Regions from separate parts of the Homo sapiens genome. Here all the other regions are reported to be linked to region 6. The links are microRNA targets in miRTarBase. Many come from high-throughput screens and were not tested one by one. Region 6 holds a microRNA gene; each other region holds the end of a gene's coding sequence. Distances are from middle to middle.

Region 1 (3,098 bases), not on the chromosome of region 6:
GTCCAGTTCCTGTCCCACGGCCGTTCGCGGGACCACGCCATCGCCGCCACCTTCTTCTCCTGCATCGCGTGTGTGGCTTACGCCACCGAAGTGGCCTGGACCCGGGCCCGGCCCGGCGAGATCACTGGCTATATGGCCACCGTACCCGGGCTGCTGAAGGTGCTGGAGACCTTCGTTGCCTGCATCATCTTCGCGTTCATCAGCGACCCCAACCTGTACCAGCACCAGCCGGCCCTGGAGTGGTGCGTGGCGGTGTACGCCATCTGCTTCATCCTAGCGGCCATCGCCATCCTGCTGAACCTGGGGGAGTGCACCAACGTGCTACCCATCCCCTTCCCCAGCTTCCTGTCGGGGCTGGCCTTGCTGTCTGTCCTCCTCTATGCCACCGCCCTTGTTCTCTGGCCCCTCTACCAGTTCGATGAGAAGTATGGCGGCCAGCCTCGGCGCTCGAGAGATGTAAGCTGCAGCCGCAGCCATGCCTACTACGTGTGTGCCTGGGACCGCCGACTGGCTGTGGCCATCCTGACGGCCATCAACCTACTGGCGTATGTGGCTGACCTGGTGCACTCTGCCCACCTGGTTTTTGTCAAGGTCTAAGACTCTCCCAAGAGGCTCCCGTTCCCTCTCCAACCTCTTTGTTCTTCTTGCCCGAGTTTTCTTTATGGAGTACTTCTTTCCTCCGCCTTTCCTCTGTTTTCCTCTTCCTGTCTCCCCTCCCTCCCACCTTTTTCTTTCCTTCCCAATTCCTTGCACTCTAACCAGTTCTTGGATGCATCTTCTTCCTTCCCTTTCCTCTTGCTGTTTCCTTCCTGTGTTGTTTTGTTGCCCACATCCTGTTTTCACCCCTGAGCTGTTTCTCTTTTTCTTTTCTTTTTTTTTTTTTTTTTTTTTTAAGACGGATTCTCACTCTGTGGCCCAGGCTGGAGTGCAGTGGTGCGATCTCGACTCACTGCAACCCCCGCCTCCTGGGTTCAAGCGATTCTCCTGCCCCAGCCTCCCAAGTAGCTGGGAGGACAGGTGTGAGCTGCCGCACCCAGCCTGTTTCTCTTTTTCCACTCTTCTTTTTTCTCATCTCTTTTCTGGGTTGCCTGTCGGCTTTCTTATCTGCCTGTTTTGCAAGCACCTTCTCCTGTGTCCTTGGGAGCCCTGAGACTTCTTTCTCTCCTTGCCTCCACCCACCTCCAAAGGTGCTGAGCTCACATCCACACCCCTTGCAGCCGTCCATGCCACAGCCCCCCAAGGGGCCCCATTGCCAAAGCATGCCTGCCCACCCTCGCTGTGCCTTAGTCAGTGTGTACGTGTGTGTGTGTGTGTGTGTGTGTGTGTGTGTTTGGGGGGTGGGGGGTGGGTAGCTGGGGATTGGGCCCTCTTTCTCCCAGTGGAGGAAGGTGTGCAGTGTACTTCCCCTTTAAATTAAAAAACATATATATATATATATTTGGAGGTCAGTAATTTCCAATGGGCGGGAGGCTTTAAGCACCGACCCTGGGTCCCTAGGCCCCGCCTGGCACTCAGCCTTGCCAGAGATTGGCTCCAGAATTTTTGCCAGGCTTACAGAACACCCACTGCCTAGAGGCCATCTTAAAGGAAGCAGGGGCTGGATGCCTTTCATCCCAACTATTCTCTGTGGTATCAAAAAGAAAAAAAAAAAAAAAGAAGGAGTCGGGGCCGGGCGTGGTGGCTCACGCCTGTAATCCCAGCACTTTGGGAGACCAAGTCAGGCAATCATCTGAAGTCAGGAGTTCAAGACCAGCCTGGCCAACATGGTGAAAGCATGTCTCTATTAAAAATACAAAAATTAGCCGGGCGTGGTGGCGGGCGCCTGTAATCCCAGGTATTTGGGGGGACTGAGACAGGAGAATCCCTTCAACCCGGGAGGTGGAGGTTGCAGTAAGTCAAGATGGCACCACTGTGCTCCAGCCTGGGGGACAGAGCGAGACTCCATCTCAAAAAAAAAAAGGAATCGGACGAAGAACCACAGGATGTTGAAGACAACTGTCTGAAGTATTTGTGAGGGACAGCGATGTGGCCCTCTGTGTTAAGAATAACGTGTCCTGCTTTGGCAGAGAGAAGAAAATAGCCACTGCCCGCTTTCAAGGCAAGATCGACCTTTTCTGTTTTGTTTTGTTTTTCTTTCTTTTTCCTGGCCATGAGGACAAAAATTACTGAGTGGCCCTTAAAGAGGGAAGTTTGTTTTCAGCTGTTCTCTTTTGCCCGTAGGTGGGAGGGTGGGGATTGCTGCGTCCTAGCTAGAGGAATGGCTTTGCTTGAATGTGTAGTGCACACGCACGGGTGTTTCTGTGTGCTAGTTGCTTCTTGCTGCTGCTTCCTGCTTGTCTGGGACTCACATACATAACGTGATATATATATATATATATATAAATGTATAAATATATATTTTATTTTTTTTTAAATCCCTGGAGCTTCTGGTTCCTATCAGTTCCTGTTGTTAATCGTAGAACCGTTGTCCCTTCCCCCATTCCCGTATCCATCATGTTCTTTTTCTTTTAAATATCAATATAAAGGTAAAAGAAGGACTTGTGCTTTCTTAATGAGGAGGGCGGCCGAGCACGGCGGGCGGATCACTTGAGGTCAGGAGTTTGAGACCAGCCTGGCCAACATGGTGAAACCCCGTCTCTACAAAAAAATAAAAAAGAAAAGCGGGGGAGGACTCTCGGAGAGGGGCAAGGGCCAGATTCTTGGGTCTAGTGGGAGAATAGGGTTGGTGCCAAGACAACCTTGGCCTCATCAGAAGATACTAGCTGGATCTAGGTCTTCTAAATGACTTCCTCAAACCAGGAGGGCTGGGTGGGATAGAAATGAACTAGACTTCTCCCTCCTTGGAGTCTGTCCCCTGAGCACCTCACAAATACAACGTCCTAATTTGAGTGAAGGAGCTTTCCTCCCCAGTCACCTCGTCCTCCCAGGTCCCCCCATTTCAGTAATAGCCTCTCAGAGCTGAGAACCCAAGCACATGGTGGTACCTTCCCCCCGTCTACTCAAGTCAGTCCCTCATCAAACACTGTCTATTCTTCCCCCTAAATACCATTTCTACCGCCCTCTTCTCCAGGTTCCTGGTCCAGCTCAAGTTCCATTTT
Region 2 (3,098 bases), not on the chromosome of region 6:
AGCCCCTCCCACCCCCATAGATCTCCTTCACGTTCCTCCATTCCCCTACTGACACTCGGTTTTCTTTTGCCCCACAGGACGAGGAAGAGTGGGACACGGGGTGCCTGATGGCATCCCTGATGTGGTGGTGGAGATGGCCGAGGCAGACCTGCGGGCCCTGCTATGCAGAGAGCTGCGGCCCCTGGGGGCCTACATGAGTGGACGGCTGAAGGTGAAGGGCGACCTGGCTATGGCCATGAAGCTGGAGGCTGTCCTCAGGGCCTTGAAGTAGCAGCCTTGGCTGACTTTCCAGAGCCCAGTCCCAAGCCTGGCACCAAGCCTGAGGGGCCTCTTGGAGGAGGAGGTGTTCATCTGCACCACAGAGAGTTGAGGCCCTAACAAATTTCAGGCCCAGCCAAGAGCCCATGAATGGAGGCTGCAGGAGGCTGAGTCCGGCTGCCATGCACGTCTCCCCTACAGTGGTTCTCTGGACAAGGCTTTGTCCATCCCGGTCCCCAGCTGAGTGCCCAGCGCTGAGCTGGGTGCACGGTGTGATTCCAGGAGGAGAGCCAGGCCTGCCCTGCCCTGCTGGCTTCCTGACTGGAGAGACAGGACCCACAGAAACAGCCTGACAGCAGCTGGTTTGGTCCTTGTGTGAGGGACCAAGCATGTGGCCCAGGCTCTAAGCTCTGCGGGGATTGGAGAGGGATGGGGAGGGAAGGGAAGGCAGCTCCAAGAAGAGGTCCCTGTGGCGAAGTTACCTGGGGATCCTGGCTGGCCCACCTTCCTGGCTGCAGTCCAGGCCCGTGCTGGCGGGATTGGGCATGGGAAGGAGCAGGGCCTGCTGCTTCCCTGGCGCTGCTCCCAAAGATTTCTGACTCATCTGCCAGCTCTGTCCTGCATGCCTGGCGAGCTGGGGCCCAGGGCAGCATGAAGGAGAGCCCTGCGTTCTGTGCTTCTTACCAGAGGTTTGCAAGCCTCAGACAAATAAATGTGGTGTTTACAATGTATAAAAGAGAAGAAGCCAAGCGGGGCTCCTGGGGGCATGGGGTGGGCTAGGAGGGTCCACAAGGTCCATGCTGCCAGCCCAGGCAGGGATTGACATCCTGGTGGCTGACACAGACAGACCCTCACAATATTTGAAGCTCCTTCTCCTGAGTGTCTCAAAGCCCCTGGAAGCAAGGGTGGGGCTGGGTGGGGAGTTCTGTTCCTCTTTGTAGTGGGATACAGGTTCACCAGGAAAGGAAGGCATGAGTGTGCCAGAGTGTCCTGCAAACACTGAGGGGCAGGTGGGGTGGTCATATCCCATTCAAGAGAGGAGTTGGGGCCACCGTCAGCTTCCCCTCCTGGTACACTCTGTCACTGCTTCTCCGCTCGCTGACGGGAAGGAAACAGTCATTGAGGTCTGGCCCCAGGCCCAGCCCAGCCCTGCTTTCTGCTCCAGTACTCTCGCCCAAACCCCAGGGGCCCCAGAGAAGGGGGCCTCTGACTTCTTGAGTCCTAAGAAAGGAATCTTACTCCTTGGAGAGACTTCTGGGAAAAACAAAACCACAAAAATCAAAGCCTCCCCTTAAGAACAGCCCCCAGCCTGTCCTGTGGCACCGCAACTTCCCTCTCCCCCAAGGGGTCTCTGCCCTTCCTGGGTGCCTGGCTCTGTCTTGTTTGCTGTCTGTCCCTGCCTTTGCCAGACACTGCCTTGTCCCGCCTCCTGGAGGTCCTCCACATTGCCTGAGGCACCTCCCTAAAGCCCAGCACAGACCCCTCTGTCACTGCCATGGCCATTGAGGTTCAGGTTTCCAGGGCCCCTTCCTAGAGTCCCAGGCTGCTGCACCTGCTGTTGCCCCTTTGCCTACTTGGAGGCCTCTCATGGGCCCTCCCAGGGCTTTCTAGCTGAGGCTGTCTGTTCCAAAGCCTGCCCTCCAATCCCCGCAGCCACACTGTGGCCACCCTTTGAGGCCCAGTGAGACTTGTCCTCTGTGCCCTTGCCTGGCTCTCTGCACCCATTCCACATTGTGTGTTTCTGCTCCTTGCATATATGGCTGCCCTCCCTGCTGGACTGGGAGCTTCCTGCATCAGCATTCACCTGTGGATTCCTTCCATTGCTATTACACAGTATATGAAGGGCTGCCCAGGAAACCCCAGGCATCTTCACCATGAAAGCTGGCACGGCCCCTTGGCTGGGGTAGGGCTGGAGGGTAGGGAAGACAGGAAAAATGAGATCACAACTTAGGGGAAACCCAAACTCTTCTTTGTGAGCATGGGAAGATCAACATAACGTTTAGGGGAAACCGAAACTTTTCTGGATGTCTGTGTAGGTGGAGAGTAAGGCCTGCCCCTGCCATGAATCCCCACCCTGTGGAGGGGAGCTCGATCCTTGGCCAGCACTCCAGGACTACAGAGGACTGAGCAGACCCTGCAGTCCACAGGGGAGGAAGGACAAGGGCCACCTAAAGGGTCGGTGTGAAGAGGGAGGAGGAGGGTGTGTGTCAATCAGAGAAGGCTTTCCTGAGGAGGTGATGTCCTCCACATCCCAGCTACCAAGTAGGTGGACAATAAGAAGAGATGGGGAAAATCATTCAGCAGAGGAGAAGTCCCTGCAAGGGCACAGCTGGAAGAGGCAGTCAGGCAACTGGGCTTCGGGGAACTAGAACCTGAAGTACCAGACAGGTTGTGTGCGGGCATTTGAGGGGCAGGGTATAGAAATAGTAACCATTACTGTGTGCCAAATATGTCCTTATACCGGACTAGACACTTCTTATTATATTTTTCTTCAAGATAACCTGGTGAATAATGATAATAGTTTAAGTATCCTAGTTAATATATTAATATATAATGTGTTATTTTGATGTTATTGAAAAGTATTTTATTTTTTTTTGAAACAAGAGTCTTACTCTGTTGCCCATGTTAGAGTACAGTACAATCTCAGCTCACTGCAACCTCTACCTCCCGGATTCAAGTGATTCTCCTGCCTCAGACACCTGAGTAGCCAGGATTATAGGCGCATACCACCACACCTGGTTAATTTTTGTATTTTTAGTAGAGATGGGATTTCACCATGTTGACCAGGCTGGTCTCGAACTCCTGACCTCAAGTGATCTGCCTGCCTAGGCCTCCCAAAG
Region 3 (3,098 bases), 28 Mb from region 6:
TCGCCGAGGAGCTGGTGGCTGCGGCCCGGGAGCGGGGCTCCCACGACAACATCACGGTCATGGTGGTCTTCCTCAGGGACCCCCAAGAGCTGCTGGAGGGCGGGAACCAGGGAGAAGGGGACCCCCAGGCAGAAGGGAGGAGGCAGGACTTGCCCTCCAGCCTTCCAGAACCTGAGACCCAGGCTCCACCAAGAAGCTAGGTGGTTTCCAGGCCCCTGCCCTCCCCTTCCTCCCATCCTTGTCCTTCTCTCCCTCAGAAGCCTCAGGACCCAACAGGTGGCAGGCAGTGGACAGGGTGCCCGCCCCACAGTGCTTTCCCCAGCACCCCAGAGCCAGTCGGGACACCCCCCGCAGCCCGTCCTGGTGGCTGTGGAACTGCACTGGGTGGCGGGCAGATGGTGGAAGGCAGCTTAGGAGACCTCACCAAAGAGAAGATGGACCGGCTCTTGCTCCCAGCTCCTATTAGGCCCGGGGTGGGACCAGAGGTCATAGGTGCCCAACGGCAGCCAAACCAAAGACACTGGTGTGCATGGGGCAGCATGGTTGTGCACGTGGGACCCTGGGGCGGACCCAGGAGCCAAACTCTTGAAGCACCCCCTGGGTCAGGCCCAGCAGCGGAGTGGCCAGCCCCAGTTTCCCATTGCTCCTCTCTGCGGCCAGGGCCAGGTGGGTTCATATTTACAGATATGCCCAGCCAGTCCTGGTCGGCCACACCAGTGTCCCAAAGAGGAGAGCGCAGCAGAGCCAGGGGTCTGTTCTGTAGCAGCCACCCCCCTGCCCCCACTCCAGGGCAGCCATGATGTGCTTGGGCCCACCAGGGCCTTCCGGGCTGCTCTCTTCCCTGAGCCCGGAACCGGCGACGCACATGTGTCTTTTGTTGGTGTGTTTGTTTTTTTCCAGGGAGGTCTAATTCCGAAGCAGTATTCCAGGTTTTCTCTTTGTTTTATCAGTGCCAAGATGACCTGTTGTGTCATATAATTTAAGCAGAGCTTAGCATTTATTTTATTCTTTAGAAAACTTAAGTATTTACTTTTTTAAAGCTATTTTTCAAGGAACCTTTTTTTGCAGTATTATTGAATTTATTTTCTAAATCAGGATTGAAACAGGAACTTTTCCAGGTGGTGTTAATAAGCCATTCAAGTGCCTTACACAGCTTTGAAGAAACTAGGACTGCAGTGGGCTCGGATAGGCCCATTGAGGTTTTTAGAAAAGCAGGATTTGTTTTGTTAGGGAGGCATGATTTTGGTGAGATCTTTCTGGAAGAGTTTTCCGCCTCTTTGTGATGCTGAACACCCCCAAGGTTCTCCCCTCCCCCCGCTGCCCAGGTGACTGGCAGGAGCTGCGACTGCCACGTAGTGGTGCCTGGGCCCGACAGCGGGGCTCTGGGCATCCCGGGTGACCTTGGCCCATCTGCCTGCATTCCCACCCCCTTGGGCCTGGCTGGATCCCAGGCAGAGGGACCTTGCTGCTGTGTGATTGGAACATTCCCAAATATCTTGTGAATTTGTAATCAAATTGGTCTCATTGGGAAAGACTCTTAATTAAGAGGCTCAGGCAAGCACAGAGGCAGCCCGTGGGTCTCTGTCTCAGTCTGGAGGCAGCAGGGATGCTGCTGGGAGTCCATGGCACAGGCCACAGCCCCTCACCTTGCCGCGGTGGCTGGCAGCACGCCTGCCTTGCTCTGCCCCATGCCCTGAACAGGCATGAGAGCTCCACGTCCCCTAGTGCACCCTGAGAGGGGGCTCACAAGTGACCGATCCTGGGTGCCTCAGGGAGCTCACTGAGGGCGTGCAAAGTTGAAAGTGGCAAGGCTGGGGGAGGGTGTCGGGTAGAGGGAAGAGGGCAGGGGGCTAGGGGAGGACTCAGAGGCCATCTGCAGGGCCAAGCCACAGGAAGGGCTGAGCTGGAGGTGGGCAGGGCTGCTCCAGGCAGGTCAGAGCAGTGCAGGGGGAGGAGAGGAGAAAGGGAGGAAGCTGGGCTGTGTGGTCCCCATGAAGGCATTCAGAGTCCACCTGCAGACAGCGAGAGCCCCAGGAAGGTTTGCACAGCTGTGCCCCAAGCACCTTGGCCTCCTCTCAGCTCGCCGAGGAGGCACGCTAGAGCCGCCTTCCCGGTGGGAGCCCTCTGTCCCACAGGGAGCGGGGAGCCAGCTTTGCTGGGGCCCTACCTGCATGCCCAGCCTTACCCCTCATTCTCACAGCACAGATGAGGTTGAGACCATGCAGTCAATGCATTGCTTAAGGTCTCTTATTTACAAAAAAAAACCTTAAACATAGTCGCTGTCATTCAGACATTCAGAGAATGGTTGGCCACAAACAATGACCAAGTATTGCTTGGCTTAACTTGAAGGCCTGCTGTCTCCTTCTGGGGGTCAGGGACGCAGCTCCACCCTCACCACTAGCCCACCCTGCCCGTGGGCATAACCTTGACGAAGAGAGAGAATGATTGGCATCTGCTTTTCTCTTTTCTTTGCTAATAATTCTGTTCCTGGCTGCCGAGAGTGAAGTTTCACCATGTGGAGGTTTGGCTCCTATCACCTGGTGGTCTGATTCATACCCTAGCCTGAGGCTCCACTGGAAGATCTCGCAGCCTCAGTGTATGGGAAACCCTTTCCCCAGGCTTGTCCCAGCACTGCCGCTCCCCACCCCTGAGCCAGGACCCCAGAGGATGGCCATGCCCCGTGCCTGGCAGAGGTCTGGTGCCAGCACTGGGAGCTGCTCCGCCCTTGCCTTGGGGCCGAGGGAGCCCTCGTCCACCCCTGCACAGCAGCTGGGCACAGAGGAGCGCTCTTCCATCTTGACCAGGACTGCACCAAGAAGCACCAGGTGTCTTCAGCCTCCAACCTCCGGGGCGACCTTCTCTTCCAGCCACAGTCCCATGAGGGCCCCTAGCCAGGGACACTGGTCTGTAAATTGTAATCCTTTCTCCAGCCCAGCTCTCCACTTGTTCCTTGTGTGAGCTGAGCAGGCAGTGCACCTCTGAGTGTCCCTTTTGTAAGGCCCAGGGGTTGCACTGAGTCTGCAGAGGCCGCGACCTCCTAGAACGCTGTGGGTGCAGGTGAGCCGGCGTGTCCTGGGGAGATGCTGCCAGCACACAGG
Region 4 (3,081 bases), not on the chromosome of region 6:
TTTTAAATATATATAAAGATGGGATCTCACTATGTTGCCCAGGCTGACTCCAACTCTTAATTTTTACTTTTTAGATTCCAGGGGGAGAGAGGCAGGAGGCTTAGGCCTTGGCCCTTTCCTTCCCTCTCACCCTCTCCCCTCCCGCTTACTTTGCTGTCATTTCTACCCCTTTAGCGACCGGTCCTGTACCGTCCTCAATGTAGAAGGTGACGCTCTGGGGGCAGGACTCCTCCAAAATTACGTGGACCGTACGGAGTCGAGAAGCACAGAGCCTGAGTTGATACAAGTGAAGAGTGAGCTGCCCCTGGATCCGCTGCCAGTCCCCACTGAGGAAGGAAACCCCCTCCTCAAACACTATCGGGGGCCCGCAGGGGATGCCACGGTCGCCTCTGAGAAGGAATCAGTCATGTAAACCCCGGGAGGGACCTTCCCTGCCCTGCTGGGGGTGCTCTTTGGACACTGGATTATGAGGAATGGATAAATGGATGAGCTAGGGCTCTGGGGGTCTGCCTGCACACTCTGGGGAGCCAGGGGCCCCAGCACCCTCCAGGACAGGAGATCTGGGATGCCTGGCTGCTGGAGTACATGTGTTCACAAGGGTTACTCCTCAAAACCCCCAGTTCTCACTCATGTCCCCAACTCAAGGCTAGAAAACAGCAAGATGGAGAAATAATGTTCTGCTGCGTCCCCACCGTGACCTGCCTGGCCTCCCCTGTCTCAGGGAGCAGGTCACAGGTCACCATGGGGAATTCTAGCCCCCACTGGGGGGATGTTACAACACCATGCTGGTTATTTTGGCGGCTGTAGTTGTGGGGGGATGTGTGTGTGCACGTGTGTGTGTGTGTGTGTGTGTGTGTGTGTGTGTGTGTTCTGTGACCTCCTGTCCCCATGGTACGTCCCACCCTGTCCCCAGATCCCCTATTCCCTCCACAATAACAGAAACACTCCCAGGGACTCTGGGGAGAGGCTGAGGACAAATACCTGCTGTCACTCCAGAGGACATTTTTTTTAGCAATAAAATTGAGTGTCAACTATTTAATCAGGTGTTCTTGAGAATTTGACTTAAAGCACTGGCCACTGCAATGACAGTATCTGCTCATCAAGAAACACCACTGGGCTGGGCATGGGGGCTCACACCTGTAATCCCAGCACTTTGAGATCACTCCAGGCCAGGAGTTCAAGACAAGCCTGGGCAACATAGTGAGACATCGTCTCTACAAAAAAATACAAAAATTAAGGCCGAGCACGGTGGCTCACACCTGTAATCCCAGCACTTTGGGAGGCCGAGGCGGGCGAATCACGAGGTCAGGAGTTCAAGATCAGCCTGGCCAACATGGTGAAACCCTGTCTCTACTAAAAATATAAAAATTAGCCAGACATGGTGGTGGGCGCCTGTAGTCCCAGCTACTCAGGAGGCTGAGGTAGGAGAATTGCTTGAACCCGGGAGGCAGAGGTTGCAGTGAGCCGAGATCGCACCACTGCACTCTAGCCCGGGTGAAAGAGCAAAACTCTGTCTCAAAAACAACACAAAAAATTAGGCAGGTGCAGTGGTGCACACCTGCAGTCCCAGCTACTCAGAAGTCTGCGGTGGGGAGGATTCCTTGAGCCCAGGAGTTTAAGGATGCAGTGACCCATGATCATGCCACTGCACTCCAGCCTGGGCAACAGAGTGAGACCCTGTCGCTTTTTTTTTTTTTTTTTTTTGAAACGGAGTCTGGCTCTGTTGTCTGGGCTGGAGTGCAGTGCAGTGGCACGATCTTGGCTCACTGCAACCTCCGCCTCCCAGGTTCAAGCGATTCTCCTGCCTCAGCCTCCGAAGTAGCTGGGACTACAGGTATCTGCCACCATGCCCAGCTAATTTTTGTATTTTTAGTAGAGACCGGTGCCTCAAGTGATCCACCCACCTTGGCCTCCCAAAGTGCTGGTATTACAGGCGTGAGCCACCACGCCCAGCCAGACCCTGTCTCTTAAACACCACGGGAAACCACAATGAGACACCACTATACACAGTAGAATGGCTGAATACAAGACCAAGGGAGGATGGGATACAACAGGACTCCTCATCTCTTGGTTGGTGCTCCCTTAGTAGATGGCTGAGTTGTTTTGGAAAATAACTGGGCAGTTTCTTAATAAAGTTAAAAAATACAGGCTGGGTGCAGTGGCTCACGCCTGTAATCCCAACACTTTGGGAGGCCGAGGTGGATGGATCACCTGAGGTCAGGAGTTCGAGACCAGCCTGGCCAACATGGTGAAACCCCGTCTCCACTAAAAATACAAAAATTAGCCGGGCGTGGTGGCACATGCCTGTAGTCCCAGCTACTTGGGAGGCTGAGGCAGGAGAATCGCTTGAACCCAGGAGGCAGAATGTTGCAGTGAGCCAAGATCTCACCATTGCACTCCAGTCTGGGTGACAAAAGCAAAACTCTGTCTCAAAAAAAAAAAAAAATATATATATATATAATATATATTTATTTACTATGCAGCTTAGGAGTTGCACTCCTGGGTATTTACCCAAGAGAAGTGAAAACTTTTGCTTTTACAAAAATGTGTCCACAAACGTTTAGCTGCTGTACTCATCATTGCCAAAATTTGGGAACAAATCAATTGGATACACTGGTACATTCATACAATGGAAGATTACTCAGCAATAAATAAGAGCGATATCGACCTACACTGCAACAGAAATGCATTTCAGATAATTTGTTGAGATAAAGAAGCCAGAGACGGTAAATACTGTATAGTTCCATTTAGAGGAGGGCTAGAACATGCTCAACTGGCCTATGGTGGGAAATCAGAACAGTGGTGACCTTTGAGAATGAATATGGGGCCAGGCACGGTGGCTTCATGCCTGTAATCCTAGCACTTTGGGAGGCCGAGGTGGGCGGATCATGAGGTCAGGAGATCGAGACCATCCTGGCTAATATGGTGAAACCCCATCTCTACTAAAAATACAAAAAATTAGCAGGGCATGGTGGCGGGCGCCTGTAATCCTAGCTACTCTGGAGGCTGAGGCAGGAGAATGTGGTGAACCCAGGGGGCGGAGCTTGCAGTGAGCCGAGATTGTGCCACTGCACTCCAGCC
Region 5 (3,098 bases), not on the chromosome of region 6:
AGGGCTCTGGGAGGCTGAGCAGTATGAGATGGAAACTGGACTTGGGTGGTCAGGGAACAGTCTGCTGAGATGAACACTGCTAGCTGTGTTTGTTGCCTGAGGGCCAAGGGGAGGCCTAGGGTGAAAGGCAGCCAGGAGGGGGCTGTGGCATGCACAAGCAGGGAGGGGGGTGTGGCACCCTGGCTGGCTCCTCTCCCTGAGTGCCCTCTCCCACTTCCCAGGTCTCTGCAAGGGCCACAGTGGCAGAGCGTGGAGGAGGCGTTCCCCCACATCTACTCCCACGGCTGTGTCCTGAAGGATGTCTGCAGTGAGTGCACCAGCTTTGTGGCAGACGTGGTGCGTTCCAGCCGCAAGAGCGTGGACGTCCTCAACACTACGCCACGACGCAGTCGCCAGACCCAATCCCTCTACATCCCTAACACCAGGACTCTTGACTTCAAGTGACAGCCCCAGGTGGCCAGGCCTCCAGGAGGCACCAGGCAGGCCCTGTATCAGGCTAGGACGCTCTGAGCTGTGCATGTACATATATACATATATAGATACATTTATAATATATACACACAGTCTATATATTTATATACACTGTTTCCTGGCCCCAGAGCTCATTTGGGTTCAGGCGCACTTCAAAACCCTCCCTGGGGGAGGCTGTTTCTTCTCAGGATTCCTTGCCAGGGAGGAAGGGGAGGGAACAGGGTGGGTTTTCTCACTGAAGAGAGAAAGCAGAAGGTTCTAGATCCTGGCACAGACTGCATCCCATGTTCCCATGCTCTTCTCCGTCCCCAGGAATGCGAACGGCAGTTTCCCTTCCCCAGTGGACGTCTAGGTGGGGACAGGGTATCTTGGCTCCCAGCTGGACCAGAGTGCCCTGCTTGCCTCTGCTCTCCCTTTGTGGGGACTCAGGCAGCAGAGGCATCTGGGAAGTCTCTGAGTAGGCAGGGTCCTCCTGGGAGGCACCCCCACCTGTTTGAAAGGTCTGGCCAGGCGTGGTGGTTCAGGCCTGTAATTCCAGCACTTTGGGAGGCCGAGGAGGGAGGATCACCTGAGGTCAGGAGTTTGAGACCAGCCTGGCCAACATGATGAAATGTTGTCTCTACTGAAAATGCAAAAATTAGCCAGGTATAGTGGCAGGAACCTGTAATCCCAGCTACAGGGGAGGCTGAGGCAGGAGAATCGCTTGAACCCGGGAGGTGTAGGTTGCAGTGAGCCGAGATTGCACCACTGCACTCCAGCCTGGGCGACAGAGCGAGACTCTGTCTCGAAAAAAAAAAAGGTCCGTGCCAAGCTGCTCCCTGCCCTTGCCCTTTCCCTTTCCCTGGGGTCCAAACCACATGTGTCCTGCCTCTCCTGGCCCTACCACATTCTGGTGCTGTCCTCACTCGCCCCTGGCCCAGAGGCTCCTGAAGATGCTGGGCGGTCCTGGCACAGGGAGGAGCAGCTCTGTAAATCTGTGCACATGGCCACTCTTGGCCTAATAAAGGAGGTCTCACAGTCTTCTGTCTGGGATGTGCGCTGAGGATTCACCCAGCATGGCATGTTCTCCCAAGGTTGAAGCTGGGCTTGAGGGGCCACCTGCCTTCCAGGACGAGGAAAGGCCTCCTGGCTTAGAGTCAGGTGCCCACCAGGCAAGGGCTCCAGGCCTGCTCTGTCCACGCAGCCCTGGCTGCCTCTACCAGCTTCGTGGTCCTGGCCACCATGGTCAGGGCTGCATGCGGACGGCACAGACTACTGCCCATCAGCTCCTCTGGCCACACCTGCTGGCCTGGGGGGTACTTTGGTCTCATTTCCCAGATCCGTATTCTCGTTCTCCAGGGAGAGGATCCACAGGGGCAGGAGGTGTGACTGCAGGCTCTAGACAGGCCCTGTGCCGAGTGCTGTCTGCTCACCTGCGCCCGGCTCAGCCTGTTAACGGGGCCCTGCCCTGCTCCTCCGTGACGTTCTGCCGTCATCTTACCTTACAGATGAGGGAACTGAGGCTCAACGAGGTCAAAGAATTTGGCCAAAGATACACAGCTCACCCAGAACTTTGACTCCAGGCTGTAATGCTAGCCGTGGGGCCTGGAGGTCAGAAGGGACAGGACTTGTAACTGATGGGCCTGCGGGAGAAAATACTCCTGTCAGCTGGGGTCCAGGAAATCCAAACACACAAAATTAGAGCCCCCAGTAAAAACAGCCAGCTTCTAGCATGCGTGTAAGCATTTCACGGACTCTCTGGCCTGTATTTTTATTCCTGTTTAAAAATAAGAAAACAGGCACAGAGAGGGTCAGGGAACTCCTCCGGTCACACAGCCAGCAATAAGCTAATGTGTAGTGCTTGGTAAGGACGACGGTTGTTCTGGTTCTACGGGGACTCACACTCCCTATCATGGGGAGACTGGGTTGTAATTCATACAGGAACACTTGGAAATGAAAGCCCACGTTAAAACCCTAAACCACGGCAGGTGCAGTGGCTCACACCTGTAATCCCAGCACTTTTGGAGGGTGAGGTGGGCAGATCACTTGAGGTCAGGAGTTCGAGACCAGCCTGGCCAACATGGTGAAACCCCATCTCTACTGAGTACAAAAATTAGCCGGGCATGGTGGCACATGCCTGTAGTCCCAGCTACTCGGGAGGCTGAGACAGGAGAAGTGCTTGAGCCTGGGAGATGGAGGTTGCAGTGAGCCGAGATTGCGCCACTGCACTCCAGCCTGGGCAACAGAGCAAGACCTCATCTCACAAAATAAAATAAAACCCTAACCCATCCTGGGAGGGGCCAGGCCGGCTCACCAGGGCTGCTGCTTGTGCTCATGAAGCCGCAGTAAGTCGGGCAGGAGGCTGCTGGCACCTGTCTTCTCTATGCCCTCCTGTCCCCATGTCCCCAACCCCAGGCACAGGAAGCTGTGCCCTCCGCCCACTGAACCCAGCACTGTCTCAGCCTCATCTACTTTATTTTTTTCATTTTTTTGAGACAGGGTCTGGCTCTGTCGCCCAGGCTGGAGTGCAGTGGCGCGATCTCGGCTCACTGCAGCCTCAGCCTCCCGAGTAGCTGGGATTACAGGCGTGCGCAGCCACGCCCAGCTAATTTTTGTATTTTTAGTAGAGGGAGTTTCACCGTGTTGCC
Region 6 (3,098 bases):
AAGTATGGCCATTTCCACTGGCAAGGCCTCCCTGGGTGGGGGCTGCAGAGATCCTCCTGGGACCACCGAGGAATGACCTCCTGACTAGTGTGGGTTGCTGCATCCTCAGGGCCTGGCTCCCTGCCTCCACCTCCCAGAGGCACCCCAGGAGGCAGCTGCTCTTCTCCCTGGGTGCAGCACGGGGTAGTGCGGTGGGCCACAAGCCACATGAAGTAGCCTGTGGCACTGGGGAGGCTGGCACCCAGCTGGGCCTCCCCCGTTTCCCCCGTGGGCAAAACTACCAGCCCCACGGGAAACTTGTCAGGTCACCCAGCAGCCAAAGCCCTTCCTCAGAGCCCCTCTCTTCCCCCAGGATGCCCAGCCCCATAAATACAGGATTATCCACTATGTACAAAAACATTTTAATTGAAATACCTGTATAAAAAAATATGATCTCCAGACATCTCACTTTTGAACTGAAAGAACCCCCATCTGCGATGCCTGCACACACCGCATTCACACAAACACAGGTACTGAATAAATTAAACGCTCAGGCTCTGGCCCCACCCCAGCTTTCAGAGCCCACAAGCAGACTGTACAAAGTCAATAATTTAAAACCCAAACCCTGGGCACAGTGCCTGGAAGTGTCAGGGTCACCCACTCCCCTTAAGTTAGCCACTATACATGTTCATCTTCTGACAGGCGGGGCCGGGACAGACGCCAGGCACAGGAATCAGGGCCTGGGGTCCCTGGACCACAGCCACCCCCTCCCCTGCCTCCCCACTGTCCCCTGGGGCTTGGGAGAGGCAGACTGCTCAGAGGAAATAACCTCAACAAATAAATTAAACAATAAATAGCCCCGGTGGGCCGAGGGCACCTCCAGGGGGTCACACCATAAATAACAGAGTTGGCGGCGGGTACGGCTCGCGTGGGCGGGCGGGCGCGGAGGCCAGGACTTGCATTGTGTGTGCAGGACGTGCCCAGACGCACACCGCAGGACTGAGGGCGGGAGGTGGGCTTGGGACCCTGCGCCGGCGGAAAGAGCTCCGGGTGGGCAGGCAGATGGGAAGGCCGCCTCCGGACACAGCAGCACAGAGGGGCGTCTGGGGTTCAAGTATCCACCCAGGGCAGGCGGGACCTCGACCGGAGCGTCTTTGGACAGACAGAGCTTGAGAAAACCAAGTCCCGCGGGACCAGCGTTCAAAAGGCACTCAAAGCGAAGGTCACCAGGGGTCAGAGGTCACTGCTTCCGCAGGAGGAGACGGCCCACGCAGGAGAAAGTCAGGGTCTGGGGGCGTCCCAGGTCTGGCCAAGGCAGGTGGTCCCCTAGCTCCCAGTCAGGTGCAGCTCCTCACAAGCTCTCGCTGCTGGACGTGGTGCTGGCCACGTCATCAGGGTCGAGGGTGCACAGCCGCAGGTCACAGCTCTCCGGGACGCCCCCGTCAGCCCCCAGCATCCAGGGATGGGCCGCAATCTGATCCAGCGACGGCCGCTCTGAGGGCCGCAGGGACAGGCACCACCGGATCAGCTGCTGGCACTCTGTGCGGAGCGGAGAGGTCAGGGAGGGCCCAAGCAGGGCGAGGCCCCCACCCCCGCCTCGAGCCACCACGCACCTGGAGAGACCCTCCTCCGGAAGAGCAGGCGGCCTCGGAGGATCTCCTCGTCCTGCTCGAAGGGGATGTCCCCACACACCATATCGTAGAGAAGCACGCCCAGCGACCACACGGTGGCCGAGCGCCCGTGGTAGCGGTGGTAGCGGATCCACTCCGGGGGGCTGTACACTCGGGTGCCTAAGGGGACACAGGGCTTAGCACGCCCACCACAGAGGCAGAGCCGCTCAACAGACGGCGAGGTCCCTGCTGGTTAACTCCCTGGCCTCAGTAACAGGAAGCAGAGCCAGGCCTCAAAATCCTGCTCGTCATCACCCTGGAAAAACCCCGGCAGGCGATGGGGGGGCTGGGGGAGGGGCCGGCCGTCCCCCTCCGCCGGCCGCGGGGGAGGAGCAGGTCACATGAGTAAGAGCTCGGCTTTCACAACAAACAGATGCGCTGTGAGGCTACCTGGGTGGGGGGGGGACAGCGCGGGTCCCTTACCGCCCGGCGCGCCTGCCTGCGGGAACGGGGGGAGGGGAGAGAGGGAGGGAGGAGGGAGGGGCGGGCGGGGAGCCCCGGCTTCCCCAAGCTCCGCAATGCGGGGATTTCTGCCGCCGCGCCCCCGCGCTCCGCACGCACGCAGCTCCCGCCCCCACGCAGGGGAGGCCCCGCCACTCCAACCGCGCCGCGGGGGCCTCCAGGCTCCCGGCGCAGACCCAGCCCGGCTGCGCCCTGCGTCACGCACGGAGACTCCTCCGCTACCGCCCCCAGCCGGGGGTCTCTCGGGCCGGAAGGATGTCACGCGCCTCCCACACCGGGGCAAGAGGCCCCGTACCCCCCAACGCGATGGAGGAAGCAATATTGAGCGCGCCCCTAGCCCCCACCCAGCACGATCCCGCTCTTGATCCCTCGCTCAGCCCTCCCCAGGGTAGCGCGTGGGCCTCTGCTCCCCACGAGAGCAGACCCAGGGCGCGCGGCCGCCCAACAGTCATCAGCCCCTCCATGTGCCGCCCCTGCAGGCGTTAACCCGCCGGCAAGGCCCCCGGAACGTTCCCTGCCCCGCGCCCGCGCTCACCGTCGAAGTCGGTGTAGACCGTGTCCTTGAGCAGCGCACCCGAACCGAAGTCGATGAGCTTGAGCTCTCCGGAGCGCAGGTCCACAAGCAGATTTTCGTCCTTAATGTCGCGGTGCACGACCCCGCAGCTGTGGCAGTGGCGCACGGCGGCCAGCACCTGCGCGAAGAAGCGGCGCGCCAGCGGCTCGTCCAGGGCGCCGCGCTCCGTGATAAAGTCGAAGAGGTCCTGCGCCGGCTCGGGCCGCTCCAGCACCAGCAGGAAGCCGTCGGGCCGCTCGAACCAGTCCAGCAGGCGGATGACGCCGCGCGCGCCGCCCGCCGCGCCCACCTTGCGCAGCAGCACCACCTCCAGGGGCACGGTCGCGCCGCCCTGGGGGACACGGCGGTCAGCAAAAGCCCCGCGCCCGCCCCCCGCCGCCGCCGCCGCCCGTGCCCCAACTTACCAGGCTGCC

What was found. The annotated mature microRNA hsa-miR-6821-3p reads UGACCUCUCCGCUCCGCACAG and lies in region 6 at 1,519-1,539, opposite strand. An mRNA with a match to its seed (bases 2 to 7 or 8) in the 3' UTR can be bound and repressed. Matches are read on the target gene's strand: a 7mer-m8 pairs with bases 2 to 8, a 7mer-A1 pairs with bases 2 to 7 and ends in A, and an 8mer does both.
Region 1: miRTarBase lists MYADM as a target of hsa-miR-6821-3p. Seed matches in the 3' UTR shown: 7mer-A1 at 1,442-1,448.
Region 2: the mRNA of STOML1 is a reported target of hsa-miR-6821-3p. Seed matches in the 3' UTR shown: 7mer-m8 at 718-724.
Region 3: the mRNA of PPM1F is a reported target of hsa-miR-6821-3p. Seed matches in the 3' UTR shown: 8mer at 482-489 and 7mer-m8 at 2,690-2,696.
Region 4: the mRNA of SLC1A5 is a reported target of hsa-miR-6821-3p. The part of its 3' UTR that is shown has no 7-base or 8-base seed match.
Region 5: the mRNA of SPIRE2 is a reported target of hsa-miR-6821-3p. Seed matches in the 3' UTR shown: 7mer-A1 at 1,042-1,048.

The regions. Positions count from the first base shown.
Region 1 is chr19:53,873,902-53,876,999 of GRCh38, forward strand. It overlaps MYADM (myeloid associated differentiation marker), which reads left to right. Exons shown (of 3, transcript NM_138373.5): 3 at 1-2,534. The coding sequence ends at 597. Among named protein-coding and RNA genes, the nearest start is that of MYADM-AS1, 6.3 kb to the left of the region's middle.
Region 2 is chr15:73,981,110-73,984,207 of GRCh38, reverse strand. It overlaps STOML1 (stomatin like 1), which reads left to right. Exons shown (of 7, transcript NM_004809.5): 7 at 78-3,098. The coding sequence ends at 271. Among named protein-coding and RNA genes, the nearest start is that of STOML1, 9.6 kb to the left of the region's middle. RefSeq lists an enhancer at 2,187-2,376.
Region 3 is chr22:21,920,194-21,923,291 of GRCh38, reverse strand. It overlaps PPM1F (protein phosphatase, Mg2+/Mn2+ dependent 1F), which reads left to right. Exons shown (of 8, transcript NM_014634.4): 8 at 1-3,098. The coding sequence ends at 200. Among named protein-coding and RNA genes, the nearest start is that of PPM1F-AS1, 16 kb to the left of the region's middle. RefSeq lists enhancers at 1,410-2,068, 2,730-3,098.
Region 4 is chr19:46,772,841-46,775,921 of GRCh38, reverse strand. SLC1A5 (solute carrier family 1 member 5) reads left to right here. Exons shown (of 8, transcript NM_005628.3): 8 at 175-1,039. The coding sequence ends at 412. Among named protein-coding and RNA genes, the nearest start is that of SLC1A5, 14 kb to the left of the region's middle.
Region 5 is chr16:89,869,829-89,872,926 of GRCh38, forward strand. SPIRE2 (spire type actin nucleation factor 2) reads left to right here. Exons shown (of 15, transcript NM_032451.2): 15 at 222-1,491. The coding sequence ends at 444. It overlaps LOC112268179 (a long non-coding RNA gene), which reads right to left. Exons shown (of 2, transcript XR_002957933.2): 2 at 549-2,093. Among named protein-coding and RNA genes, the nearest start is that of TCF25, 2.2 kb to the right of the region's middle. RefSeq lists an enhancer at 2,522-3,098.
Region 6 is chr22:49,961,360-49,964,457 of GRCh38, reverse strand. It overlaps MIR6821 (microRNA 6821), which reads right to left and starts at 1,592; the gene lies at 1,519-1,592. It overlaps PIM3 (Pim-3 proto-oncogene, serine/threonine kinase), which reads right to left. Exons shown (of 6, transcript NM_001001852.4): 3 at 3,090-3,098; 4 at 2,647-3,016; 5 at 1,593-1,769; 6 at 386-1,518. The coding sequence ends at 1,331. RefSeq lists silencers at 1,824-2,343, 2,474-2,523.